Linked DNA regions of Homo sapiens. The protein of the gene in region 1 interacts with the protein of each later gene in a biochemical or structural test. Each region holds a gene or a part of one and is shown on either strand. Other genes may lie near its edges. The genes, in order: AKT1, MAPKAP1, SKP2 and HSPB1.

The links.
Region 2: of the proteins of AKT1 (region 1) and MAPKAP1, one has a biochemical effect on the other in vitro, tested with the Homo sapiens proteins (3 studies listed by BioGRID, with this or other methods).
Region 3: of the proteins of AKT1 (region 1) and SKP2, one has a biochemical effect on the other in vitro, tested with the Homo sapiens proteins (4 studies listed by BioGRID, with this or other methods).
Region 4: the proteins of AKT1 (region 1) and HSPB1 form a complex in vitro, tested with the Homo sapiens proteins (3 studies listed by BioGRID, with this or other methods).

Annotation. Positions count from the first base shown.
Region 1 is NC_000014.9:104,778,727-104,785,751, forward strand, and holds part of AKT1 (RAC-alpha serine/threonine-protein kinase), read right to left. Parts: intron 1,491-7,025; coding exon 1,362-1,490; intron 1-1,361. UniProt on the Homo sapiens protein: AKT1 is one of 3 closely related serine/threonine-protein kinases (AKT1, AKT2 and AKT3) called the AKT kinase, and which regulate many processes including metabolism, proliferation, cell survival, growth and angiogenesis.
Region 2 is NC_000009.12:125,557,190-125,564,214, forward strand, and holds part of MAPKAP1 (target of rapamycin complex 2 subunit MAPKAP1), read right to left. Parts: exon of another isoform or gene 6,546-7,025; intron 2,621-6,545; coding exon 2,444-2,620; intron 1-2,443. UniProt on the Homo sapiens protein: Component of the mechanistic target of rapamycin complex 2 (mTORC2), which transduces signals from growth factors to pathways involved in proliferation, cytoskeletal organization, lipogenesis and anabolic output.
Region 3 is NC_000005.10:36,147,904-36,155,124, forward strand, and holds the start of SKP2 (S-phase kinase-associated protein 2), read left to right. Parts: upstream 1-4,207; 5' UTR 4,208-4,359; coding exon 4,360-4,367; intron 4,368-4,867; coding exon 4,868-5,139; intron 5,140-7,221. UniProt on the Homo sapiens protein: Substrate recognition component of a SCF (SKP1-CUL1-F-box protein) E3 ubiquitin-protein ligase complex which mediates the ubiquitination and subsequent proteasomal degradation of target proteins involved in cell cycle progression, signal transduction and transcription.
Region 4 is NC_000007.14:76,298,110-76,304,817, reverse strand, and holds HSPB1 (heat shock protein beta-1), read right to left. Parts: upstream 2,146-6,708; 5' UTR 2,106-2,145; coding exon 1,742-2,105; intron 1,017-1,741; coding exon 953-1,016; intron 835-952; coding exon 645-834; 3' UTR 526-644; downstream 1-525. UniProt on the Homo sapiens protein: Small heat shock protein which functions as a molecular chaperone probably maintaining denatured proteins in a folding-competent state. Plays a role in stress resistance and actin organization.

The DNA.
Region 1 (7,025 bases):
ACCTCCTCCCAGACCCTGGACCAGAACCTGGGGGTCCAGCAAGTTCAAGGGAGTCGGAGGACCGCAGGCCTCAAAGAAAGGAGGGCAGAGCTACTTGGAGGGGAGGGGCCGATGCAGCACATGGGGATGGAACCTAAGGCCAGCCCCTGGTGGGCACCTCGCTCTGCACCACAGACCTGCCTGAGACAGATCCCAGAGGCCTGCAGTTACCCAGCCCTGCCACATACAGATGGCCCACAACTGGGCCCTAATTAGCCACTCAGTCACACCTGCATGCCCAACCCGTGTCTCTGGCTGCCACAGGCAGAGCTGGGCTCCAGGACAGGGACACAGAAAATGGGGACCATGCTGGGAGGCCCACGTGTCCCCAGCCTCCCACCTAGCAGGGCGCCTGGGTCTCCATGCCAGGGTTCCCGTCTGACATGGGTAGGGTCGCACCTGCCCCCGCTACAGGTAAGGAATAAAGCCACAGCAGGGCGGAGCAGGGAGCGTCACATGTCTCTCATCTCTGTGGGATGCTCCGGCCAAGGTCCCCCGCTGGCCTTTCTGCACCTGCCCCTCCATGGGCAAGGAGGCAGCCTCACAGAGGGGAAGCAAAGGCTCTGCCATGGGGTCTGGAGGCTGAGAGCCTGTGCAGGGAGAGGCACGAGCTCTTCCTCGAGTGATGGAGGCTTCAGAGCTGGAGACCCCAATGGACTCTTGCCCCCTCACCCAAGGGGTTTCCCAAGGAGAGGCCCTGATGGGCTCTATCTAACCCCCTTGGAGGAGGGGCCCCCGGGGCAGCTGTCCACCCTGAGACTGGGCTCTGCTGCCACTTGTCCGGACCCTCCAGCTTCCAGAGCATGGGCACCAGGGAACTGCTCCAGGGTCAGCCAGCCTTGGGACTCGGCCCAGAGACCCCCGCCCAGCCAGCCTCGGCCTCAGGACTCTGCCCAGAAACCCCTGCCCAGCCGGCCTCGGCCTCGGGACTCAGCCCAGAGACCCCGGCCCAGCCAGCCTCGGCCTCGGGACTCGGACCAGAGACCCCCGCCCAGCCAGCCTCAGGACTCAGCTCGGAGACCCCTGCCCAGCCAGCCTCGGCCTCGGGACTTGGACCAGAGACCCCTGCCCAGCCAGCCTCGGCCTTAGGACTCAGCCTGGAGACTCCCACCCAGCCAGCCTCAGCTTTGGGACTCAGCCCGGAGACCCCTGCCCAGCCAGCCTCGGGACTCGGCCCAGAGACCCCCACCCAGCCAGTGCTTGTTGCTTGCCAGCCCAGGACTTGGAGGCTCCAGGGGACCCCCATCGTGGGGCCTGGTGGGCAAAGAGGGCTCCAGCCAACCCCCCAAATCTGAATCCCGAGAGGCCAAGGGGATACTTACGCGCCACAGAGAAGTTGTTGAGGGGAGCCTCACGTTGGTCCACATCCTGCGGCCGCTCCTTGTAGCCAATGAAGGTGCCATCATTCTTGAGGAGGAAGTAGCGTGGCCGCCAGGTCTTGATGTACTCCCCTACAGACGTGCGGGTGGTGAGAGCCACGCACACTCTACCCGTCAGACCCTCGCCAGGCAGCCAGGCAGGAACTGGGTGTGCCAGGACAGATGTGCCTGGGATGCCTGAGTCCCAGGGGGCAGGCGCGGTACGGGAGCTGTTTCTTAGGGCCAGCGACAGAAACGGCCCTGGGTCAACGGGAAGGCAGACTCGCCCCACCACAGCGCCCCTCTCAGAAGAGCCACCCCGAGCTGTGTCTGAAAACGGGCTGGGCCAGCTGGACGCAGGGGATGGAGTACCATGGACAGGAGGCTGGGAAGAGGTCTGGGCCAGTCTGCACAGCCTTCCTGGAGGAGGCAGCCCTAAACCAGCCAGTCCCCAGCAGGCACCAGCAGCAGCTCGGGCCCCAGCTATGGCCACAGGGGCTGCGGGGCTGACAGCATTCCCCAATCAACCAGGGTCGGCCAGGTGGCGACAGCAGGTGACAGTGGCTTGTGTGGGCTGCCCAGCATGGCCGCCCCCCCCGCCCCGCCGCCACCCACCAGGAGGATGGAGCATGGCGTCCACAGTTAGAGGTCAGCACCACTCAGACTGAGGGCCGGGCTCGCGGGACAGGACTGCCCACTGCCGTGGGATCGCACTCCCTGTCTAGGGGCCTGGAGCACCGTCTTGGGGACTGCCGATGAAGCCAGACACGGAGGTGGCCCAGCCAGCTGGGCAGGGGCCCCAGGGCACAGAGGGTGCCAAGTCCCCAGGCTGAGACCCACACTCAGGCCCTGCCGCCGTCGGCCCTGCCGCGTCCCACCCGTGGGTCATTCAGGTACACGGGAACATTCTCCCTCAAGTTTTGCAGCATCAGCCGTACGCAGGCGTTCACACTTCAGAATCAGAGCAGCTGTCCTCGGTGATAGCCCAGCAAGTACCATTTTTCATACTGACACTCGGAAAAAAATGTTCCACTTACATTTTGCCAAGCAAGGAGTTTGAACAACAGGGAACTTACTAATTAGGCAACTGCTTCATCTGAGGGGTCACTGGGCAGGGGTTAGGGAGGGGGCCAGGGTAAGGGGTTGGGGTCCCTGAGCTCTGGGGCCTGGGTTTTCATGCCACACTGAGCCCCAGACAGGGACACCTGGAGGGATGTGGGGGACAAGCAATTGTCCCATCACCAGACCACCCACCACCCAGTCCTGCTGGGTCTTCGTGGTGAGCCCAGACGCGTCCAGCCCTCCCTGGTGCACAGGGAAGTCCCAGCAGGGCAGCAGCCCCAGGGGAGCTCAGAGGACATGGGTCATGGGCATCCCAGCAGGCATTCTACTTTCCAGGGAGCCACGGGGGAGTTCTTTAATAGAGGTGAGCCACCAAGGCTCGACACATGGCCACCCCCCGGCCAGGTGACCTCTCCCTCCTACCCCGGCCCCAGCTGCCCAATGCCCTTCCCACCAGCACCACGGGGCGTGGTCTCCACAAGACCAGCCCTCTCTCTGCCCAAGCCAGGGCTGCTGGGGGGATGCTGGTGGAGGGTGGGGACACCCCACCCAGCAGGGCCTGAGTGTGGGAAGAGGCTGTTGTCAGGTCTGGGGTGGACCAGGAAGGGGACAGCCACAGCCCACTCATAGCTGCCTGACACCTCTGGAGGACGGCCAACACCCAGTTGCAGGGAGGATGATCCAGGGCCCAGAATCTGCCCCTGTGCCCAAGAGCACTCATCAGGAGACCCCACCCACTCCGCAAGCCCTCCATGCCCCTGCCAGTGGGCTGCCGAGCAGGCGTGGTCCTGCCACCCTTGGGTGCCGGCTCCTGTCCCTGACCTGGGATCTCGCACACCCCCGAGTGTGCACATACACGCACATACGTGCCACGCAGCTCCACCCCGCCTCCCACGTCCCCTCCCCCAGCCACAGGGCCCCTGCAGGTGCAGCGGGCAGGCAGGGGCGCTCAGTGAGAGCAGAGCAGGCTCAGGGGGCTGCATGCAGCCCACCCCACCCGTCCCCCATCCTGGGCCACCCCGCTGCTCACGCCCACCCGCCTGCATGCCAGTCTGGAGCTGTCGGCCCCTGATGGAGTGCCTCCCATCCTGCCAGCTGCCACTCCCCGGGACGCTAACTGAGCGGGAAGACTGATGAGCGCCCAGGCCCGGCACCCCTGAAACCCATCTTATCCACCAACTGCTGCCAGCCCCCACCGTGCCCAGCATGGCCCCGTGCTGCCCCCGAGCACGCAGCTCCCGTGCCCAACCCCAGCCTTGCCCCTGACCCTGCTGCCACAAGCCCAGCCCCAGGTTCTGTGAGCTGCATCTGGGGGGTTCTGGGAGCTGGATCTGGGGGTGCGGGAGGGGCAGGCCCAGGGGCGGCGCTTACCAGGCGTGGGGGGTGGGAGAGGACAGGTGCCCAGCCCCGAGCATTCCTGGGGAGTCCTGGGATGGGCAGAGGCCCAAATGGGCCCTGGGCTTTCAGTGCCTTCCCCTCGCCTGGCCCCACAGACCCAGGGAACAGACGGCGATCAGGGCCTACCCCAGGAGACGGGTGTGAGTGAAGGGGCCTCACGTGGCCTTTGTCTTCGGCATCCCAGCCCAGCACACAGACCCCTCCAGGGGAGGAGCAGGATCCCCAGGGACCCGGGGTAAGGGGTCCAGAGACACACAGTTCTCTTTCTTCATCTCTCGCCTAGAGGGTCAGCTAGAGGATCACTTGGGGGGGTGCCAGCTGCAGCCAGGGCCGTGGCGCGCATCTTAACGAGTTCAGCCCAGACAGGATGCTGGGTGGGCGGCCAGCCCCGACAGCAGATGCGGCAGGGCCCCACTACTCCCTGATCCAGGACTGGGGTGACACAGGACGGGGCAGGTGGAGGAGACAGCCACCCGGGGCCCAGCATCACTGTCCTCATGGCCACAGGACGCCTGCAGGCCTGCACCTGCCTACTCCGGGTCCCTCAGGAGGGTGGGAGCACAGACACATCAGCCAGGGCTGCCCTCCCAGACCCCTCACACAAAGAGACCAACCCACATGGAGTCTTCTCCTTCACTATCCTGAGGGTCCCCAGGGGAACTGGAACCTGTCATCCAGGACTTAACTTGAGTTCCCCACCCTGTTGTGGTCCTCAGATGCCCCCCACTCGAGGCAGGAGTACAGTCCACTTGAAGAGTGGCCTCTCAATCCCTGACACCCCAGGAAAAGTGCCCTGCATTGCTGGGGGAACTGGAACCAGGCAGTAGGGACCTCGTCCTCCACACCGACCATGGGAAGCACCCGCCACAGAGGGGCCTTCCATCTCCCCACCATCAGCCAGCTGGCATCCCCCCACCCCACCCCAGTCACCCCCCCAACACCACCCCACCCACCTGCCTGCACAGCTGAGGGCACCAAACACAGAGTGGGCACAGACCCCCAGGTTGCCACGCCAGGCCCTCACTCCAGACGGGTACAGGCAGGCAACAAATGGGGAGGCCAGGGCACGCCCCACCCCACACACAGCCAGAGTCATCTCCTGCCAGCAGCCACTCCCAAGGGCAATGGAGACCGCCCAGCATTCAGGCCCAGGGGGCCTCTTCAGTCCCTAACTCTCACACCCCCATGCTGGGCTCAAGAACCCCCAAGTCCCCACCCGCTGCACATGTTTCAGACCCGGGACCTGGAGCAGGCAGGGTCCCAGTGCAACCCCGGCCTGGGCCTCAGGGTCTGGCAGGGAAGACGGCTAGGTGCCCCTTCAGAAATGTCAGCAAGTCCGGATGGGGGACCCCACACCACTGCCAGAAGACCTGAGTGGGGGGCCGAGTGGAGGACGGCACTGGGGACTGGTCCCACCTTCCTGCCCCATGGCTGGTCCCCTGGGCAAGGGGGAAGCAGCAGCTCCGGTCCCACCCTCCTGCCCCATGGCCGGTTCCCTCGGCAGCGGGGAAGCAGCAGTTCCAGTCTCACCCTCCTGCTGGCCCCCTGGGCAGTGGGAGGCAGCAGCTCCGGTCCCACCCTTCAGGGTTCTCTCAAGGCCAGCCCTGGGCCAGGTGGGAGCCACCCTGACCCTTAACCCTGTGACACTGCACCTATCCAAGACCAGGTCCTGTGAAGCCACAAGGGCAGGGGCTCCTGTGCCTGATGAAACCCGTAACCCTCCCCACCAGCCAGCACATCCATGGCCCAGGGCTCCAGGCATGGGAGGTGGCTGCCCTCGGTGGGGGGTAGGCAGTTGGCCAGACTCCTGTCCCTGCCCGGGGGGACAGCGGAGACCAGGCTCCCTCGACTCCTCCTGCACCTCCTGGGCCCCACACAACCCCAGCCCTGGTCCCTCTGGCATCCCGATGTCCCGGGTGGCCCTCCGGCAGGAGTGACCTTCCATCCCCAACCCCGCTCATCCCCAGGAAGGGGCTGGAGCACCCCCAGGGAAAGAGGGTTCCTTCCCAGAAGTCCTCCTGGACCAAATACCGGGGTTCTGAGAGGAAGCTGCTCCTGCCTGGCCTCCCCCAACCCACCCCACCACCACCACGGGGACCACATGGACAGTCACAGGCAGCCCACCCTCTCCACGCCTCACACACGTGTCCCAGGCCACACTGTGGGTCAGGCCCCCCAAAGCGGCACCCACTTAGACATGGGGGCCAGGACCCACGCGCCATGGGCAGGACTGGGTGGGCCCCTGAGGGCCAGCTGGTGGCCCTCCACGTCCCGGGACTGACCACCTCCTGAGCCACCAGGTGTGTCAGCCCCCCTAGGCCACCACGTCCTCAGCTCCCTGAACATTCTCTCAAAGTCCCCAGTTCTCAGGAAACTGCTGGATAAACACTTCGCAGAGACGGTGGTGGCAGCGGCTGGCAGGGTGCCAGGCGGCACCGAGCTGCTTCTCCACAGCAAAGTGAGCCCAGCAGGCCCTGGGAGCGGGCGCCAGCTGACAGCGGCCACCGTGGTCCCCACTGCCGACACATCCATCGCCCCGACAGCTGCCGGGGGCCCATTTACCTTCTCCAGCACATTGAGCAGACGGCTCCGCTGACGGCAGCCCATGAGGGGCCCGCAACCCACCCTCCCCGCCTGCCAGGAGACCGCACAGCTCACCGCGAAGGGCCCGGCCTGCCAGGCCTCTGCCCGGGCCCGGGAGTACACACCCCTTTACCAGCAGCCCTCGAACCCTGTAAACAACCAGGCTGGGGTGGGGGCAGGGGAGGGGCCACACAACGGAGGCCAGCTGACCCCACTTGGCTGGAGCCCCCAGGTCTGTGGGTGAAATACATCCACTGCTCCTCCCGGCACAAGCCCTTCTGAGGGGGCACAAGTGGCCAGTCTGCACAAGGAGAGGTGTCTGTTCCCGCCAGGCAGAGGACTGGCGCTCCACCTGCCTGGGCCTCGCCCAGCCCAGGACCCATTCTGCTCTCCCAGAAAGCCCACCAGGCAGGCAGGGCGGGCAGGGCTCATCATGCCCATCAGCTCCCTGGGAAAACGGAGACTTAGGGGAGGTGACCCTCAGAGGCAGATCATGACCAGAGAGACCCCAGGTCCTGCCGCCAAGGCAGGGGTTGTAACTTGACACAAACTGCAAATTCTTCACCTCCTTCCGCTCCACCATGG
Region 2 (7,025 bases), on another chromosome or scaffold:
TAGTCTTAGATGCCCCTCCTGGAAAGGCATATGAATCCTAGCCCCACTCCACTCTACTGAAAACTCAGTGATTTAAAGCCTCTTGCTTTAAAAAAGGACTTCTGGTTCAAAAGACTGCTATGATCATGTGTTAACATTCATGTAGAAAAAGTTCTAGTCATATTAATAATCAATAAAAATGCAAGTAAAAACTATCGAAATGCCACTGTGTATATCTTTTAGAGTAGAAAAAAAAACTTCTAATACCTTGTAATGGTAAAACTATAAAAATGATTTTAGGAATTCTGTTGGTAACATTGTAAATTAGGACATCTTTCAGAGGGCTATTGTCAATAAAAAGTGAGTCTAAAGATGTTTTTACTCTGACCAATAATCCTACTTACAAGGCATGATCCTAAGGAAGTTGTTCAACAGAATAAAAGGTATATAGATAATGACCATCATCATCAAATTACTTATTAAAACCACACAAGGAAGCAATCTAAATATTCTGTGATCGGCTTCCACTACAACCCATACACTTTTCTTTTATACTGCTTATCACATTTTAATTATTTGACAACTGTCTCACTACTAGATAGTAAGCTCCATGAGGGTAGTGCTGTCTCTGCCTAGATCTCTGGCACATAAATACAGACTGTAGGAATTAAGAACAAATACTGAAACGTTTATAATTTATTATTTTTAGATGGAGTCTCACTTTGTCGCCCAGGCTGGAGTGCAATGGCGCGATCTCAGCTAACTGCTACCTCCGCCTCCCGGGTTCCAGCGATTCTCCTGCCTCAGACTCCCGAGTAGCTGGGATTACAGGTGCCCACCACTGCATCCGGTTAATTTTTGTATTTTTAGTAGAGACGGGGTTTCACCATGTTGGCCAAGCTGGTTTCGAACTCTTGACCCTCCTCGGCCTCCCAAATCCTGGCCTGCCTCGGTCTCCCAAAGTGCTGGGATTACAGGCGTGAGCCACTGCGCCTGACCTAATTTAATGTCAAGTAAAAATAACACAAAAATATGTGTGCTACAAGTGAAACTGAGTAACATATACACACGATTATTATACAAGATTAAAAATAGTTAAGATGGAGGCATCATTGGCCAACTTTTCAATTATTTTAAATATCCTTTAAAGTTATTTTAGTACCTCTGAAATGAAAAAGCAGGAAAAAATTTGCTGTTATTTACACCAAACTTGACCTTGTAGTAGGGATGAAACGGCCACCATGAAAGCCTGAGGGCCCACTCCCCAGCTTACCCCCAGGTACTCAGTTATTCTTTCTTTGCTCAAGGGTAGAAAGAGCCAAAATACTCATATATCATATGTAGCATAACCCTATTTTCTGTAACAATCTCAAACAAAGGCAGTATGTTGAGAGAGACAGGGAAATGTCTTCTAAAGCAATCCCTTTTGAGCAGTGAATTTGCTGGTTACTAACAGCAGGGGGTGCCAAAGGGATCGCTATTGTTCCCAGGAGACAGCCATGAGAAGGACTGCTGAGGCCTAGGTTGAAAAAAAGCTTAGGTTTGAGAGTAAAATCCAAATGCAGCAGGTTTTCCCTTAACAACTGGGACATGTGGATAAAACTCAGGAGCTCATAAACTTGAATGGATAAAAACTACATTTTAATTTTCACTAACTTCTAATATTTTGCATTTCCTTGATTTATAAGTGTAGGCAAACAATCACAGCAGAATCACAGTGCCAGTGACTCTGTCATGAACAGAAGTCATAGCTAACACTACAGCACATTACAGCTGTTGCAGATTTCTCAAATACCATTTATGCTCATCACCGCTTTGAAACAACAGGCTTCAGGAGTTACTGTTAGGTATACAGCTGGATATTGTTTAATCTACTAGTAAAGCCACACATATTACTATATCATGAATTTGTTCAATAATCTGATAACTTTAAATAACAGAATACTTTTATATTCCAGTGGATTTTATTTTATGCATTTACACACGCTTTTCTGAGAAAGGCACAAAAAAAAAGCTGAAGACATGTGCTCAGTCTCAAGGCAGGCAACTGACAGGGAAGGTCAAATTTGGTCTGAGAGAAAATTATTTTAAGTCACAAGAGAGAAGTGGCCACAGTGCACATTTTCAGTTAGTGTGTATTCCTCGCAGAGAAGGTGCAAACCTAGAAGTTTTGCTTCACAGGCTCCCAGTGCACCAGTGTTTCCAGAGGCCTGGCTCTGGACATGCCGTTCAGAGATCTGCTTCACACAATGTGCCACTGCAAAGCAGTCTGCGTAGCCTAGGTGCAGAGGCATGAAATACAATGCGAATGTCGTCCTCAGCATCTCTCTGGGAGTCATCGTTATTACCAGTGGACTCTCCAGATGCCAAATATCATTTATTTGATGAACAAAACCAAAATCAGATCCAAAATGCTAGAAGGTTGGGATGAGATACCGAGAGAAGTAATAGAGTCAGTACTCACATTCGAACAAAGAGTGACTCTTTGGATGTCAGACCAGGAGATGAGTACTTTTCAACCAGGGCCAAAGTACTGAAGCCAAACTTATGAATGGGCTCATTGGAATCCAGCGGGGGGAAATCGGTGTCCACCTCCCCATCATCCTCAGCAATATGCAGGCAGTAGGCACTGACATTGTCACTGAAAGGAAAACCAAAAAGGCGAGTGAATACCAAGGTAGGGAAGGGACAAGAAGACCAGAGGGTATGGTGCACAGCAAGCAAATTGAGGAGACTGCTTTTCTTTACCCCAAGCCTGGTGATACAGTAAAAAATCCCAAATCCTACTTCATTTGATAGAGAGAATACACATGGCAATGCAAAGGGGAGAAAAACAGTGTGAAATGAAGGTCTTTATACTACTCTATTCTTGCAACATTCACTGAGCCCTATTGCAGCTACGACAAAGAACCTAACCTCTTAGATCAAAGGTGAGATTTAGTATCAGCCCTAAAAGCAGCTTACAGCATAGTAGGGAGGAAAAGTAATAAGCATTACACTAGCTACAATACAAATGTAAAAAATATATATATAAAACAGATACAAACAAAACTGTAAAGGGGGGAAGATTATCTGGCCTCGGGGAAGGCAGGGGTCAGAGGCCTTTGATTTATGGTTAGGATTAAGAAAATATCTGGACAGGCATGGTGGCTCATGCCTGTAATCCCAGCACTTTGGGAGGCTGAGGCAGGCAGATCGCTTGATCCCAGGAGTTCAAGACTAGCTAGGCAACATGGCAAAACCCCATCTCTGCTAAAATACAAAAATTAGCCAGACATGGTGGTATGCGCCTGTAGTTCCAGCTACTCAGGAGGCTGAGGTGAGAGGATCACTTGAGCCCGTGAGGTCGAGGCTGCAGTGAGCTATGATGGTGTTACTTCACTCCAGCCTGGGCAACAGAGTTAAGACCCTGTCTCAAAAAAATAAAATTAAAATTAAAAAAGAAAATATTTGTGCTCTAGATCAGGAGAAATACTCAAGGTAACCAAGACAATCCATACAGTTCTCCCTTCTCTAAAGAGTATCTAAGTCAGTTGGTAGAATCTGACTTCAAACACCATGGATCCTTAGCAGAGTAAAAGCAAATGACTGGATTAGTCCTGACACAGATACCTGGTCCTCTTGACTACTTCTGCACACTTCCCACTCCCTAGAATGTCCAGACAGTACTCCCAGATTGCAGTCTTGCCCAGTTTAGAATCAACACATACCCTCTTTGGGGGAAGTAAAAAGTTGATCTGTTCAAAGAGGATGGGAAACTATACCAACATACAGACAGTGTAAGAGTGCAATCAATTCAATTGCTCCAAACCGCAAACCTGCGAGCTTCAGAATTATGCTAGCTTCAGAAGCAGGAACCCAATAGCTCACAAGGCAGTAGAATTCTAAATTCTGCAGCTTAAGTTTGGAGTTTTAATTACATGATTGATGCTTAAATTAATTAATTGCAAAGTGTATGCTAATTGTTTAATTGGTTGGTTGATCTATATAGATCATTTTTTGAATTAAATGAGTTGATTTACCAAGTTTATTGACTGGATGTGACAATGAATTATTTCACTGACTACCTGACTTGCAATTTTCCCAATTAATTCACAAATCTTTAGCTGCAACTCTGCTTATTGCAAGAGAGGGAGCCTACTTCAGGCGATCTATACTCAGTGAGTCTGTCATGACTAAGAGATATTTATTATAAAAAACAAGTAATAAGGACAAATTAAAATTAATGGAAACTGTAAATTTGCTAAATGGATTGATAACAAGAAAGTAATCTAGCTATGTTTGTCACTTTACATTTCAGGTATTTGTAATGCTGTTAAGATATTTAAAATTCATCTTTGAATGGCATGGGAAACTTTTGGATCTCTGCAGCCGGGTACTAACTTAAAAACAGAACAATTAGAGAGGCAAAAGAAAGCACTTTGGATGAGGAAAATGTCATGGTATACTGGCTAAGAGAGCTCTGTGGTCAGAACGAGTTCAAATTTCAGCTCCATGGCTCATGGCTATGTGATTTCAGAGAATAAGCTTCACCTCGAGTTTCAGTTTCCACTTCTATAAAAAGGGTATAATCGTCCCTCAGAGATTGTAAAGATTAGATCAGATAATATATGTAGTGTCTGGCATGTAACAGAAGTAAAAAATAAATGGGAAGGTAACTATAATAAGAAAGTCATATGGAAACTAACTTATAGTTGCACCAATCCTTAAACACAAATTGTGGATGCATATTAAGCAACAATGCATCTGAGCAGCATGTTCTATGTACACACAACTGTAATGGGAGTCAACATGTCCACTGTGTTCCAACCTTGGAACCTTGGGTCACTGAGCCCCCAGGGTTTTATGAACAGGGCAGACATGGATGGAACAAGCAACAGACAGCACAGATTATTTATTGCCATGTAAATCAACCTGAGGAATGTTTGATTCTCCAGCATCACAGAGGTTCAGGGGCAAATAATAAGCCTATTGATCAAAGCAGAAAAGTCCAACAATGATATCAGAAGAATTCTGCTTTGATTGTTAAGGGACATCCCCAAATCCTCTCAAAACAAATTCAATAAATATCACAGGCTAAGATTTGAGATGCAAAAGGTTCACTGCCAAGTGCTATTATTCTCCCCAGTTCTTAAATATGAAGTGTGAAATCATTCATTCAAAACACATTTGTAAAGTGCCCCCCTGGGCTGTGGCCTGTCCTGAGCATCAGGAACAGAGGAAGGAAAAGAAGACTGATTCCTGCCATATTATACAAGATGAATAGAAGCCTCTTCTGGGTCATCAGTAAAGTCTAGCAGTAAATAGTGCTCCAACTCCTCTGACCCCTTAATTGAAAATCTGAGGAGATAATGACTAAAATTCTATATTCTACACATGGACATACTGGTTCCTTTGGTGCTTTTATAAAGGAATCATTAGTAAAAGAAGCTACTGTGATATTTTGACTTCTAAAACTGCTTCAGGACTCCAAATTAGTACTAGTACAATACCAGCAGTATCATTAGCTACATTTATTGAGTACTATAAGCCAGACACTCTGCAAAGCGGCTTAGATATATAAGCTCACTGAAACTTCACATCAACTTTGTAAATGAATCATTTATATTTCTATTTTACAAATTAGATAACTGAGCCTCAATAGGATTAGGTAGCTTGCTCAAGATTAAACAGCATGTAAGTGACAGGGCTGAGATTCAAATCCAGGCAGCCAAGAGCTGTCCCTCTTGACCCCCACCCATTCCTCTGCCAAAGCCACAGTGTGTCAAGACTTCCTGAGGCACTTGAGAACCCAATCACCTATGGAAATATGACACACTTTGATGAGAAGAAGGAAACCATGACATATTACTTATAAAAAGTTAGATTTAGTTCAACCTCCTTGCTTTTACAGATGGGAAATGGAGGCAGAGAAAAGAGGGATAACATGCTCATGATCACCCAATTAAACAGAGGCAAAGCTGGTCTTGAAAACTCTGGTGTCCCCACTTCTTGTCCATTATTCTTTAAACAAATAAAAAACTGGTGGACTTTGAAATGGGGAGAGAAAAGAAAGGGGGCAGCTCTGGTCCCTGCCTCAGGAAACCCCCCGATACAGACATCTCAGAGTTTACAACACAATGGAAACAGGGGCACTTCCCATGACACAGCTTGGTGGAAAGAACAGGGATTTTGCAGACACAACTGGTTTTAATGCTAACTCAAATTCTTAGACCAAATCTCTTTGAGCTCCATTTTCTTATCGGAAAAACAGCTTTCCTTGATTTCTCTAGGAGAATAGCTTGGATCTCCGAAATTCAAGCAATTCTCCTTTGTGGTCTTACAAAATTTGGTCAATATTTCTGTATATCACTAATCATATTGCTTTTTCCTATTTCTGCATCTGTATTCTAAAGAGCAAGGATTCTTCTATTATCTCTCCATACTTACTAAAGAGTAAAATGACTGGCATTTAGAAGGTACTTAACAAACATTTGTTGAATAAATGAAGATATGAATGTGTAGACTCAATCACTCTATGAAGAAAGCAAAGGGTATTATTATTATTATTATTATTATTATTTTTGAGATGGAGTCTTGCTCTTGTCACCCAGGCTAGAGTGCAATGGCACGATCTCTGCTCACTGAAACCTCTGCCTCCCAGTTTCAAGCGATTCTCCTGCCTCAGCCTCCCAAGTGGGATTATAGGTGCCTGCCACCACACCTGGCTAATTTTTGTATTTTTAGTAGAGACAGGGTTTCGCCATGTTGGCCAGGCTGGTCTCGAACTCCTGACCTCGTGATCCACCCGCCTTGGCCTCCCAAAGTGCTGGGATTATAGGCGTGAGCCACCATGCCCAACCAGCAAAGGGTATTATTAGTGAGGTATGTGTTAATGAGAAGAGGGAAAGTAATAACCTTCTTTTTGTGTTCTTGCTTTTCACAGTGATATCTGTTAACCAAATAGGGCTTTCTAGGCAATGCACATGTGTCAAAGATTGTAATTCAAGACTAGAGGAGAAGGCAGCACAGGCAAAGGTGAGGATGAAAGGGGAATTTTTATAGTC
Region 3 (7,221 bases), on another chromosome or scaffold:
GAACCTAATGATTCATCATTCTCAAATACTGTTAACTTAAATATCTGAGTCTGATGAATCATTAGGTTCCAATTGGAAATTTTATCTAACTTCACATATCTGTATTTTTACTCAGATATGTGCAAAATAATAAAAACCAGGAGACAACTCAAAATCCTAATTATGAAAAATCAAAAGAACCAGAATTAGAAGTGAATGATTAAGTCAACAATTTTCCACCAATAATTAAATTTAAATCTTCCAAACATAATCGTTATTCACATATTTAAAGATTTCAGGTATGAGAGAGTTCAGTTTAGGACACAGACTACTGCAAGAGACTATTACTCCCACTCGAAAAATGAAAAAAAAAAAAAAACCATCATAATATTTTTTAAAGGTACCTAAGAGCTGAGTTGGCGAACCAACCAGGTAACCTGAATTCCAAAATGTGACAAGCCCCTGAGGACAGTGGCATACTGTCCTGCTTTACCTTTTGCAAGGCATGAAGAGAAGAGGTAGCAATCATGTAAGCATATAAGAAAAAAGAACTAAAATTTTACTGAATTCTTAAAGATTTCATACATAGAAATTGCAAGACATTTTGATAGAGAATAATCTGTAAAGTCCTTCCTAATAATAAAATAATTTCAAAAAACGAATAGCTAACATTTAGAATGTGTTCACTAAATTTTAAGCATTGTATTAATACTAGTACCTGCCAAGCTTTATCAAATTAGACCTCACAACCTAGTAAGAAAGGGCTGTTCGTTTCCTTGCTTAACAGAAAAAAAACAGTGCAGAGAGGTTAAGTAACTTGTCCAAGTTAACAGAGCTGGTGAATGGTAAAGCTGGGATTCAAATAGAGGCATCTTTACTACAGAGCCTGGATCATAATTACATGTCTCTTCTCTAATCTAGACATAGTTTCTTAATGCAATTTAAATTGCTTAATGATTTATTTTGTTCAGTCTTCACAGGGAACAAATTAGAAACTTTCTCCCATTTCTTTTAGATATATCAGGACAGAATGCTTAGTCATGTTTAATAAAGAATTTAACGCAAACTTTTTACATTACAGATTATACTACTATTACTTGATTTAAGGGTAATATATGACTGTACTCTACATGGGAAAAGTGGAAAACATAGAGTAAATTAGAATCCGTTTGTTCTTGCCCCAAGCTGCCTATCTTAGAGCATTAAATTACAATGAATTAAAGATCTACTTAGTTCCAAGCACCATTCATTCATTTAGCAAATATTTACTGAACGCCTACTATATGGTGAGCTCTGTTCAAGGGGCTGGAGATAGAAAAATCCAAGCAAAGTCCCTGCCCTTAAAAAGTCTAGTGGGAAGAAACAGGCAATTAAAAAAAATACATTAGGGGGTGATAAGGGTTATGTAAACAGGTAGCTGCCACCACCACAGAGACTATCAGTTCTGGAAATACATTATTCAAGATTAGTTTGGCTACACATAACAGAAAAGTCCAATATAGTACAGACTTATACAATGCAGAATTTATTTCTCGTGTAAGTCTTGAGATAGGTGGTTATGGCAAGTTAGCAGATTATCAGAGGCCCAGGCCCCTTCTATAGTCCACATCCTTAGCAGGTGGCTTTAATCCTTATGTTCCAGGACAGATGCTGGAACTCCAGGAATCCTATCATCATCTAGACAGCAGGATGGAGAAACAAAGAAGGGTGGACCGTCTTCCTTTTAAAGAGATGTAAGAATCGGCTGGGCACGGAGGCTCACGCCTGTAATCTCAGCACTTTAGGAGGCTGAGGTGGGTGGATCATCTGAGGTCGGGAGTTCGAGACCAGCCTGACCAACATGCAGAAACCCCGTCTCCACTAAAAATACAAAATTAGCCAGGCGTGGTGGCGCATGCCTGTAATCCCAGCTACTCAGGAAGGCTGAGGCAGGGGAATTGCTTGAACATGGGAGGTGGAGGTTATGGTGAGCCGAGATTGCGCCATTGCACTCCAGCCTGGGCAATAAGAGTGAAATTTCTTCTCAAAAAATAAAAATAAAATTAATCAGAAAAAATAAGATACATCAGTAGCAATCACAATGCAGTTCTTTATGACCAGATAGCAACCTCTATGTACCTACTAATCTCGTCTTCAATGGACACAATTCCTTACGTTAAAAAGAATCTAATGTACCAATTTAAACTTGCATTTATTATATTAAGGCAATAGTCATGATTAGAAGGAAGGCAAAAAAAAATTATTCCCATATTAGGAAGATGAAGTATGTCTGTTACCGGGGCAAACTATCAAACTGAATTTCAAAACTGACAGGCTCTCCCTGAAGTCCTAGAGAGGATCTTGTGTTCACTAATTCAGATGTTGCAAGTATTCTAGTTCCCAGGTAACTCCTAGTAAAACCAAGACTGAACAAAGATATTTCTCATCTTTAAATTTAGAATCATCTCATCGATTAAACCTTCCTATCTATGAGATCTATATCTGAAGTGGGCTCTCCCAATTATTTTACATCTCAAAACTGTTTATTCTCATTATGGCATCTTAAATATTTTTGTTTATTCTTTCTCCTCCATTAGCTTACAGGCTCTCTCTGTTTTGTTCCCTTTCCTGAAGGAAACTATAATTTTTTGTGTCAAAAATATTTTCTCCTATGAGTTGCAATCTTCAGGGAAAGGACGTAGCTTCAAACAAAGGCAAATGCTTTCTCCTTAGCCAAAGTAACATAAAGGTCACTTTCTGTAAAACATCAGGATATTGCATTTTAAAATGCTTTCCATATAACATTAGTTTGATGAACGGCTTAGCCTAGGATTCTGCACCTAGTTCCAATCAAAACCAAGTTGTGAACAGATCCCTTCTTTACACCAATCTCATCTTTCAAGAACGAGCTAAAGGTTCATGAATTCCTTCCTCAAGAGGCAGTTACTTTTCAAGCTAAGGACCAAGCTTGAAACAAGCATATACCTGCACAAGGGAGGTTTAATTTCACTACAGAGCGAATCATTTTTTCAAGGAAACCAGAGGGTGTGTCATACAGCATCACTGAATATTCTAATATGCGATGAAGCTGTTATGCTTCCTTATGAACTTTATAAATCTTCATTTTTATGAGGCTTAGAATTCATCCCCCTTCCCTCTTCCACTGTTTTCCCGGGGTCACAGTTGTAGTATAGTTTGCCCAATGGATTTCGCATGGTCATTGTACCTGGAATATGTCACGCTCCCTACTCTTACTGCCCCCAAACTCTTCTCAGCAGAGATAGGCTGAAAGCAGCTCGCTTTTAGGCGGCGACGCAAACACACGTAGCCAGCTGAGCGACAGCAAGCAACCAAATGGCTTTGCTGGAGGCCCCCTGCGTGCACGGGTAAAGCTCGTTGCAAAATACAGTCCTTTCATTTATTCCCATGTTGCTATTTATGAGACCTGTCAAGGCTGCAAGGGCATGCGCAGCCTTCCCACCACACAGGACCCGCTGGGGTCTCCGGCTCCCCTAAAATTAAACCATTGTCTCTCGTTCCAACGGCGTGTTTAGCTGTTGTGCGTTATTTTACAGATAAAGGAAGGATCCCGTCCACAGACCCAATTCTTAGGGCCGCCTTCTCCCCGACGGAGGAAGAAGCTTCCTGGCAAAAGGACGAACAGGTGCGACGCCAGCAGTTCGCAGCCTCTCACCTGGCCGGCGGGCTGGGCTACTGTCACCACTCAGCAGCCAAGGACTTGGGCCCCGCAGCGGCGGCCACTCGGGGTCTGCCGGGTCCCCTCTCTTTCCGCCTGCTCTCGGCCCCGGACCCCAGACTCAAAAGCGCCTCACGCGTTCCGCCTTAGGCTCACCGTCCGATCTCGCCAGACAGCGTCTGGACGGGACCGGGAAACGGCGGCCGCCACAGCTGTCCAGGTTCTGGGATCCACGCTCAGAGACGACAGCGCTGGCGATCACCAGAAGGCCTGCGGGCTCCCGAGAAAGGAAAATCCGTCTACAGTCCAGCGGCTGACATTTCCCAGTCAGCCGTAGCGCCGCCCGCTTCCGCCTCCCCGCCTACCCCGTGGGCCGACCAGTCCCGCTCCCGCGGGGGGTTGTGGGTATCTCGAAGGCGGGTAAAGCTGCAAGGGAAGGAAGTAAGGGCGAGCCCGTCGGACTACGAAGCGGGACGGAAACTACAATTCCCAGCAGGCCTTGGGCCTCAGTGCGGCCGCGAAGCAGAGCGGGCTGTAGAGCCTTGCGCGCGCAGTGGGGATGGAACGTTGCTAGGCTTAGCGGGTCTGGCTGCTGGGGGCCCGAGCAGCACGCTCGGAGCCGCCGCGCGCCAAAGCGGGAATCTGGGAGGCGAGCAGCTCTGCAGTTAATGCACGTATTTTAAACTCCCGGGCCTGCGGACGCTATGCACAGGTAAACGGATTGCAAAAAGGGGAAGAGCATGAAATGGACCCTCTTAATAATTCTTTTAGGCCGCGAATATCGCTACTGGCTAATATTGTTAGTAATGCTGTTAAGTGAATGGTTGCTTAGCCCCTTCTTGGGGAAAGTGTGAATGGATGGATGCCTTAGTGCGGGGATCAGCGTGTGGTTTTATTTGGCTTCCCTAATTGGGCTTTTCTGCCACCGTTTTCAATCAGTGTATGATTGCCCTGTCTCTCTCCTTGTCTGTTCCCTCCACTGGGAGAAATTCTTGAGGCCTTCTGCAGGATCGTAAGTCAAAAAGCCTTCTCGATTTGTTCTTTTCATTTCTTCGTTTTCTTGGTAACTCGCCGCAGGCACATAAAAAATGCGATTCTGTTAGCTGCTGTGAAGGTTTCCTACAATGCATAAACTGCAGCTTCTTTAATTGCCTTGAAATTATTTATGGGTGTGTTTTCGAAAGGAACCGGGGGTATTGTGCACTTCTGCAGGAAGCACCTCCAGGAGATTCCAGACCTGAGTAGCAACGTTGCCACCAGCTTCACGTGGGGATGGGATTCCAGCAAGACTTCTGAACTGCTGTCAGGCATGGGGGTCTCCGCCCTGGAGAAAGAGGAGCCCGACAGTGAGAACATCCCCCAGGAACTGCTCTCAAACCTGGGCCACCCGGAGAGCCCCCCACGGAAACGGCTGAAGAGCAAAGGGAGTGACAAAGACTTTGTGATTGTCCGCAGGCCTAAGCTAAATCGAGAGAACTTTCCAGGTAAGGACATGAGGGTAAAAATGTCAGTTATGCAAAGGGTGGATTTAGCTATGTTGTTGGGAAACCTTTGTTCAGAGATCTTTAGCATGGGTTCCTTTTAAGATTGCCTAATTCTGAAGCTATTTTTCAACAAAATAGGGCAAGTCGTCAAGTATGCAGGAATCTTGGTAGATATATATATATATATATATATATATATATGTATGTTCTGGTGCATAATCACCTTGAAAATTTTAACCCATGAGAAGACATTCCTGCCTTTTTCCTTAGAAGGGAATCTGCCTGCCTCAAGGCCAGCTCAGTTTCACCGTTTAACAGAAACATAAACAGTGGTCTTCTTGTAGGATTCCTTTTGCTTTGTACCCCTGAGTGATCTTTTTGCCTTAATCACTTTAGTTATTTATCAGTGGACTGCGAAGTGAACGTTCACCTAAGTGGGGGAGACATCTCCCCAGGCCCACTCCCACCCCCATATTGGCTTCTCCTGGTATGTTCTGTCTCCATTACTGCTGACACTATCTGTTTAATCACCCAACCCGAAAACCTGAGAGTCAGTCAGCTTCCCACCGCCCCCCAACATCCAGTCATTCATCGCATCTTTCCCTCTTCTCTGGTAACTATTTCTCAAGTTCTCGTCGTCTCTTGCCTGAACTATTGGAGTGGATTCATAATTCCAACCTTCTTCTCCCCAGATCTATCCCCCGAACTAGAATGGATTGACTGAAATGTAGAACTTACTGTATCTTCCCTCCTTAATAGCTCCCCATCCCCTAGTTCCTCAAGCAGGCGAACGAGTGCCTCCCAGAGTGAACCAGAACCCTGGAGTATGCAAAAGCCATAGGATAAACAGGGCATTGACCTGGGGTTATCAGTTTTTCTTACTAGTAAGCTATTTAAAACAGTAATACAGCAAATATTTGCTGAGCACATACCATGTGCTAGGCCGTGTTCCAGGTGCTGGAGATAGAGGAGTGGGCACAACAAACATTTCTGCTCTCAGGGAGCATCCATTCTAGTGAGAGAATACAATAAACACAATAACTATTTTTATATAGTATGTTAGAAGGTGATAAGAGCTATGGCTAAAAACAAAAATAGAACAAGCCAAGAGGGAATGCAGGTCTTGGGGTGGGAAGATAGAGTGCACTTTTAAACCAGGTATTGAGAGAAAGCCTCAATTGGACAGTGACCTTTAAGCAAAGACATAAAGGAGGCAAGGAGTGTGCCATGCAAATATCTTGGAGAAAAGAGCTCCAAGCAGAAGGAACAGCCACTGCAAAGACCCTGGTGCATAAATGTGACGTATTTGTTCCAGGAACAGGGAAGCCATATTCTAAGAGTGGAATGAGCGAAAGGGAGAGTCGGGGGAGATCAGGCTGGAGGTAATGTTGAGCAGAGTTGTGATGGGACCTGATTTAACCTTCTAAAAATGACACACTGATGTGTTGAGACTCAGCTGCAGGGGCATCAAGGGTAGAAACTTAGGGTCTTTTTTAAATTTCATATTTTCAAGACGGAGTCTTGCTCTGTTGCCCAGGCTGGAATGCAGTGACCTGCTCTTGGCTCACTGTCTTCACCTGGATTCGAACGATTCTCCTGCCTCAGCCTCCTAAGTAACTGAGACTACAGGCATGCACCACCACGCCCAGCAATTTTTTTATTTTTTGTAGAGATGGAGGTTGCGGGGGCGTTCTCACCATCTTGCCCAGGCTGGTCTCAAACTCCTGGACTCAGGCGATCCTCCAGCCTTGGCCTCCCAAAGTGCTGGGATTACAGGCATGAGCCACCACACCTGGCCAAAGCTTGAAGTCTTGTTGGGGGTGAGGGTGGTCAGATTCCGGATATATTCCCACATTAAAGTCAACAGAATTTAGGAGGCTGTTGAAATCATCTGTGGAAGAGGTGATCAGAGTCTAAATTGAAATCAGGTGGGGGATGATGGCGAAGAAGAAACAGATTAAACATTTAAAGATGAAGTCTTGCAGACCCAAGGTAATTTAAGTATATTCATAAATTCTCCCATCTGGTTTCCTTTGCAGAAGGGTTGATAGATTGGTTGTTTAGTTGATTGGTTGGTTGCTC
Region 4 (6,708 bases), on another chromosome or scaffold:
CGTGACCTTGCAATCATGACCTTTTTTTTTTTTCTTTTAAAGATGGGGTCTCACTCTTTCTCTCTGGGCTTTTGGTTGTTTTGAGACAGGATCTTGTTCTGTTGCCCAGGCTGGAGTGCAATGGCACGATGTTAGCTCACTGTACCCTTCACAACTCCTGGGCTCAAGCGATCCTCCTGCCTCAGCCTCCTGAGTAGCTGGGACTACAGGCGTGCAGTACCACCCTGCCTAATTTTTATTTTTTAGAGACAGTCTTACTATGTTGTCCAGGCTGGTCTAGAACTCTTGGCTTCAAGCACTCCTCCTGCTTCAACCCCCCAAAGTGCTGGGATTGTAGGTATGAGCCACTGCGCCCGGCCCTAAGACCTCTGTCTTTATGGATGTGAGTCAGCCTGTGTCCAGCAACCTACACCAGTGTACCCACATGGCCCAGCACGGGCCTGAGCAAAGATGACTCCTGAAAGCCAGCAAATGGCAGGTGCCTGAGGCTTCCTTCCACAAACACCAGGGCCTGGGCCAGTGACAGGTGGTTGCTTTGAACTTTATTTGAGAAAAACAGAAGATAAATGTATCAAAAGAACACACAGGTGGCGGGGGAGGCACAGCCAGTGGCGGCAGCAGGGGTGGGCATCCGGGCTAAGGCTTTACTTGGCGGCAGTCTCATCGGATTTTGCAGCTTCTGGGCCCCCAAGCTGGGCCCGCGACTCGAAGGTGACTGGGATGGTGATCTCGTTGGACTGCGTGGCTAGCTTGGGCATGGGGGCCTCCACGGTCAGTGTGCCCTCAGGGGACAGGGAGGAGGAAACTTGGGTGGGGTCCACACCGGGGGGCAGCCTGGACGTGCAGAGAGGAAAGGCAAGCGTTACATTACACACCGGGTGGGTCCCTGTGCCCTCTTCCCTGACCCCACCCCCACGCCACCCACCCACCCCGACCTGGCGCCAGGACTCACGTGTATTTCCGCGTGAAGCACCGGGAGATGTAGCCATGCTCGTCCTGCCGCTCCTCGTGCTTGCCTTTGGGGGGAAGAGGGAAATCAGACTGCGGGGGAGGGGACTGCCTTTCGGCCCCGCTAGGCCAGAGGCCCCACCTCCTGCTTGGAAGCAGCCAGGACTGCAGGCTGGTAGGGATTAACAGAGGGGGTTGGGGATGGGGGCGTGCCCGCCGGTCTGGGCTCTCAGAAACTTCCGGAAAGTTCTTCGATTCAGAGTTTTGGGAGGAACGGAGCAGGGCGCGGAGCTGGGGAGTGAGCAGTACGCAGGCGCACTTGGAGCCGCGCACACGCCCACTCAGCGGCTAGAAACTGGCACCGCGCCAGGGAACTCCCCGCTTATCTGGGGATGGGGCTGTGGGTGGGAAGGGGACTCTGTAGAAAAGCGCATTTTCTCTCTTCATCGATGATCTTTAAAAAAATTTTTGTTTGCTTTTTTTTTGTAATGGCGCGGGGTCGGGGCGGGGGGGCGCGTCTCGCTATGTTGCCCAGGCTAGTCTTGAACTCCTGGCCTCAAGCGATCCTCCCGTCTCGGCCTCCCAAAGCGCTGGGATTACAGAGCAGAAAGCGCCCTTAGAAGCGACCCGCACTCCCAATTCCTGAGCAAGGGAATCAGGAGTCCTGTTTTTCCCGGTGCTGGGCCAACGTTTAACTCCCCAGGCCCCCGGGACCCCCGTTTCAACCGCACGCCCCCGGCCCTGCCCGCCCTGCTAGCCTCCTCCTCTCCCCTGCAGGAGCAGGGGGGCTCACCGGTGATCTCCACCACGCCATCCTTGGTCTTGACCGTCAGCTCGTCCGGGGCGAAGTGGTTGACATCCAGGGACACGCGCCAGCGGTCCGCAGTGTGCCGGATCTCCGAGACCCCGCTGCTGAGTTGCCGGCTGAGCGCGCGGCTGTAGGCGGGCGCGGCCACTGCGGGGCTCTCGATGGCGGCGGGGGGCAGGGGGCGCACGTAGCCTGGCCAGCTGCTGCCGCCTAACCACTGCGACCACTCCTCCGGCAGCCGGGGCAGCCCGAAGGCCTGGTCGAAGAGGCGGCTATGCGGGTACCAGTCGCGGAAGGGGTCCCAGCTGGGGCCCCGCAGGAGCGAGAAGGGGACGCGGCGCTCGGTCATGCTGGCTGACTCTGCTCTGGACGTCTGCTCAGAAAAGTGCGGGGCGCTGGGCTCGGCTGCGCTTTTATGCTCCTCCAGTCGGGTATTTTTAGCAGGCGGTGTTTGAGGTCTCTATTAATGGCAATGACCCGTTTGAGGGCCGCCCCTCCCCATGCACTCCTCCCCCAGCGTTCAGGGGCCGTGGGCGGGGCGAAGAGGGTTCAGCCCTCATCTGGAACCTTCTCTCGTTAAGGAAAGCAAATGAATTCGAGAGCGCGACGCTGGAGCCGTGCCACGGCAGGGCACTCGCCGGCCCTGGTGCTTAAGCGTTGCTGGCTGTGGCCCGTGGCCAGGGCCGTCCTTCTGTTAAGGAGGACAGAGCCAGACAGGTTGGGTTGGGGCATACAACTGAGAAGTGGCAGAGGCAGGATTGGAACCACACGCGTGTGAGATAGAATGTGATAAAAGGAGTCTGGTGCTTGAGCCCAGGAGTTGAGGCTGCAGTGAGCTATGATCTCACCACTGCACTCCAGCCTAGGCAACAGATCAAAGTCTTGTCTCTCAAAAAAATTTTAAAAAGGGGCTGGGTGCATGGCTCATGCCTGTAATCTCAGCACTTTGGGAGGCCAAGGCAGAAGGGTCCCTTGAGGCTAGGAGTTTGAGACCAGTCTGGGCAACATAGTGAGACCCTACTTCTACCAAAAAATATTTAAAAATTAGCTGGGCATGGTGGTGCATGCCTGTGGCCCCAGCTACTCCAGAGGCTGAAGCAGGAGGATCCTTTGAACCCCGGTGAGTAGAGGCTGTGGTGAGCTGGATTGCACCACTGCACTTCAGCCTGGGCTACAGAGCAAAACCCTGTCTCAAAATAAGTAAATGAATAAATACAAATACAAAAATAAAGCAGTCTGGGCTGGGCGTGGTGGCTCACGCCTGTAATCCCAGCACTTTGGGAGACCGAGGTGGGAGGATCACCAGAGGTCAGGAGTTTGAGACCAGCCTGGCCAACATGGTGAAACCCCATCTCTACTAAAAATACAAAAATTAGCTGGGTGTGGTGGCGGGCGCCTGTAATCGCAGCTGCTGGGGAGGCTGAGGCAGGAGAATTGCTTGAACCCAGAAGGCAGAGGTTGCAGTGAGCCGAGATCTCACCACTGTACTCCAGCCTGGGTGACAGAGTGAGACTCCATCTCAAAAAAAAAAAAAGAAAAAAGAAAAAAGCAATCTAGTAATCTGGTGTGGTTGTTAGGCGTGTGGACTTTGAAGCCAGACTGCCTGAATTCACATCTTTGTTCCATCACTAAGCAGATGAACTTGTGCAAGTTAGATTCTTTGTGCCTCAGTTTCCCCATCTGGAAAATAGAGATGATAATGATGGTAACAGTCATGCATTGCATAAAGATGTGTAAGTCAGCAAGGGACAGCAAATATGAAGGTGGTCCCATAAAATTATATTACTGGCTGGGTGCAGTGGCTGACATCTGTAATCTTAGCACTTTGGGAGGCTGATGTGGGAGGATTACTTGAAGCCAGAAGGCTGGAACAAGCCTGGGCAACACAGTGAGACCCCATCTCTACTAAAATTCAGAACAAATTAGCCAGGCATGGTGGCGTGGACCTGTAGTCCCAGATACTCAGGAGGCTGAGGTGGGAGGAGCACTTGAGCCAAGGAGGTCGAGGCTGCAGTGAGCCTGATGGTGCCACTGCACTCCAGTCCGCATGACAGAACAAGACCCTGTCTCAAAACAAACAAACAAAAACAATTACCGTGTTTTTACTGTACATCTTCTATGTTTTATTTATTTATTTATTTATTTATTTTGAGATGGAGTCTCCCTCTGTCGCCCAGGCTGGAGTGCAGTGGCCTGATCTAGGCTCACTCCAACCTCTACCTCCCAGGTTCAAGTGATTCTTCTGCCTCAGCCTCCTGAGTAGCTGGGACTACAGGCAAGTGCCGCGACACTGGCTAATTTTTGTATTTTTAGTACAGATGGGGTTTCACCATGTTCGCCAGGCTGGTCTTGAACTCCTGACCTCAAGTAATCCACCCGCCTGGGCCTCCCAAAGTGCTAGGATTACAGGCGTGAGCCACCGCGCCTGGCCATCTTCTATCTTTAGAAACACTAATACTTACCCTCATGTTGCAGCTGCCTTCAATATTTGGTGCAGTCATATGCTGTAGAGGTTTGTAGCCTAGGAGCAGTAGGCTAGACCATATGGCTTAGGTGTGTAGTAGGCTAGACCATCTAGGTTTGTGTAAGTCCACTCTGAGATGTTCCCACAATGATGAAATTGCCTAACAAGGAATTTGTTGAATGTGTCTGTTATTAAGTGACTCATGACTGTAATGGGTTGGCCTGAGGATTTGGTGACCTAATGCAGGTGATGACTTTGGCCCGGAGCCTGGTACATCATAATTATTGTTACCTGCCTGGGATTGAAGAGAGGGAAAAGGAAGGAGAATACATGGGGTTTGGCCATTTTCCCCCTTCCCCTAACAGCGCAGCTGGCCCAGATCAGAACCTCCATGGCACAGTGCTGAGAGGGGCCAGGAGGAAGATTACTGTCACATCTCCTACTATATGTATCTTTCCTTAAGAAGCACTGGTTGGCCGGGCGTGGTGGCTCCCACCTGTAATCCCAGCACTTTGAGAGTCTGAGGCAGACTTATTGCCTGGGTTCAGGAGTTCAAGACCAGCCTGGCCAACATGCCGAAACCCCGTGTCTGCCAAAAATACAAAAAATTAGCCAGGTGTGATGGGTGCCTGTAATCCCGGCTACTGGGGAAGCTGAGGCACGAGGATCATTCCAGGAGGCAGAGGTTGCGGGGAGCTGAGATCGCGCCACTGCACTCCAGCCTCGGTGACAGAACGAGACTCTGTCTCAAACAAAAAAGAAAAAACAAAAAAGAAAAAGAAACACTGGCCAGGAACCTCAAATGCCGCAAACTTGAATTAGTCTGGACTTCCTGTGTCATTCTGGGCAAATCCCCTCCTTTCTCTAGGCCTCAGTTTCCCTTTCTGCAGATTTTGATGCCCACATCACAGAGGGAGAGGGGAGCTCCAAGTAGTAGAGTCTGCACAGAAGTGCTTAGAGCCTGGAGCTTGCCCCTTGACCCTACCTCATCCATCTAAACACCAATGGGATCCTGGCTCCTATCTCCCAGCTTGGAGGGAGGGTGCTGCCCTAGGCTCCTGCCACAACCCTGACATTCCCTCTTTCCTGTCTTTGTAGGCATGGCCATTCCAGCCTTCCTTCTCCCCTGACTTAGGTCCCTGTTTTAGTTGTTGTTGTTTTTTTTTTTTTTGTCTTTTTTTTTTTTTTTTTTTTGAGCCAGAGTCTCACTCTATCACTCAGGCTGGAGTGCAGTGGCGCAATCTCAGCTCACTGCAACCTCCGCCTCCTGGGTTCAAGCGATCCTCCTGCCTCAGACTCCCAAGTGGCTGGGATTACAGGCATGTGCCACCATACCCGGCTAATTTCTGTATTTTTAGTAGAAACGGGGTTTCGCCATGTTGGTCTCAAACTCCTGACCTCAAGTGAGCCGCCTGCCTTGGCCTCCCAAAGTGCTGGGATTACAGGCATGAGCCACCACACCCGGCTAATTTTTGTATTTTTAGTAGAAACAGGGTTTCGCCATGTTGGTCTCAAACTCCTGACCTCAAGTCAGCCACCTGTCTCGGCCTCCCAAAGTGCTGGGATTACAGGTGTGAGCCACCGCACCCGGCCCTGTTATCCCTGGTTTTTAGACAAGGAAACTGCTGTGCACAGAGATTAAATGGCTTTCTGCTGTCTCCGGTAAAGTGCTCTCAGAGCCAACCTCCTGCCTCTCTAGTACCCAGGGCCTCCCACTTCTTCTGTCCCACTGTACTTGCTGTCCCTATCCTGGGACTGAGGCTCCACTCCTCCTACTTCTATGGGGAGCCAAGGCCACTGAAGTCTTGCCCTGCCCAGGCCCAGAATCGGGGCAGACTCCAGGCCACTCACCTTGATGAGCTGGGGAAGCAGCAAGTCCTCATGCCTTCTCTGAGCCTCAGTTTCCTTTTTGAGAGAGAGCTCATAAATGCCTTTCTCTCTCTCCTTTTTTTTTTTTTTTTTTGTTGAGACAGAGTCTCGCTGTGTTGCCCAGGCTGGAGTGCAGTGGAGTGATCATAGCTCATTGCAGTCTTGACCTCCTGGGCTCAAGTGATTCTTCTGCTTCAGCCTCCTGAGTCACTGGGACTACAGATGTGTGCCACCACACTTGGCTAATTTTTAAATTTTTTGTAGAGACAGGTGTCGCACCATGTTGCCCAGACTAGTCTTGAACTCCTGGCCCCAAGAGATCTTTCTGCCTAGGCCTCCCAAAGCACTGGGATCACAGGCGTGAGCCACTGCGCCCGACCTAGATGCCTTTCTTTCTTTCTTTTTTTTTTTGAGACGGAGTCTCACTCTGTCACCCAGGCTGGAGTGCAGTGGTGCGATCTTGGCTCACTGCAAGCTCCGCCTCCCGGGTTCACGCCATTCTCCTGCCTCAGCCTCCAGAGTAGCTGGGACTACAGGCGCCCACCACCACGCCCGGCTAATTTTTTGTATTGTTTTTTTTTTTTTTTTAGTAGAGACAGGGTTTCACTGTGTTAGTCAG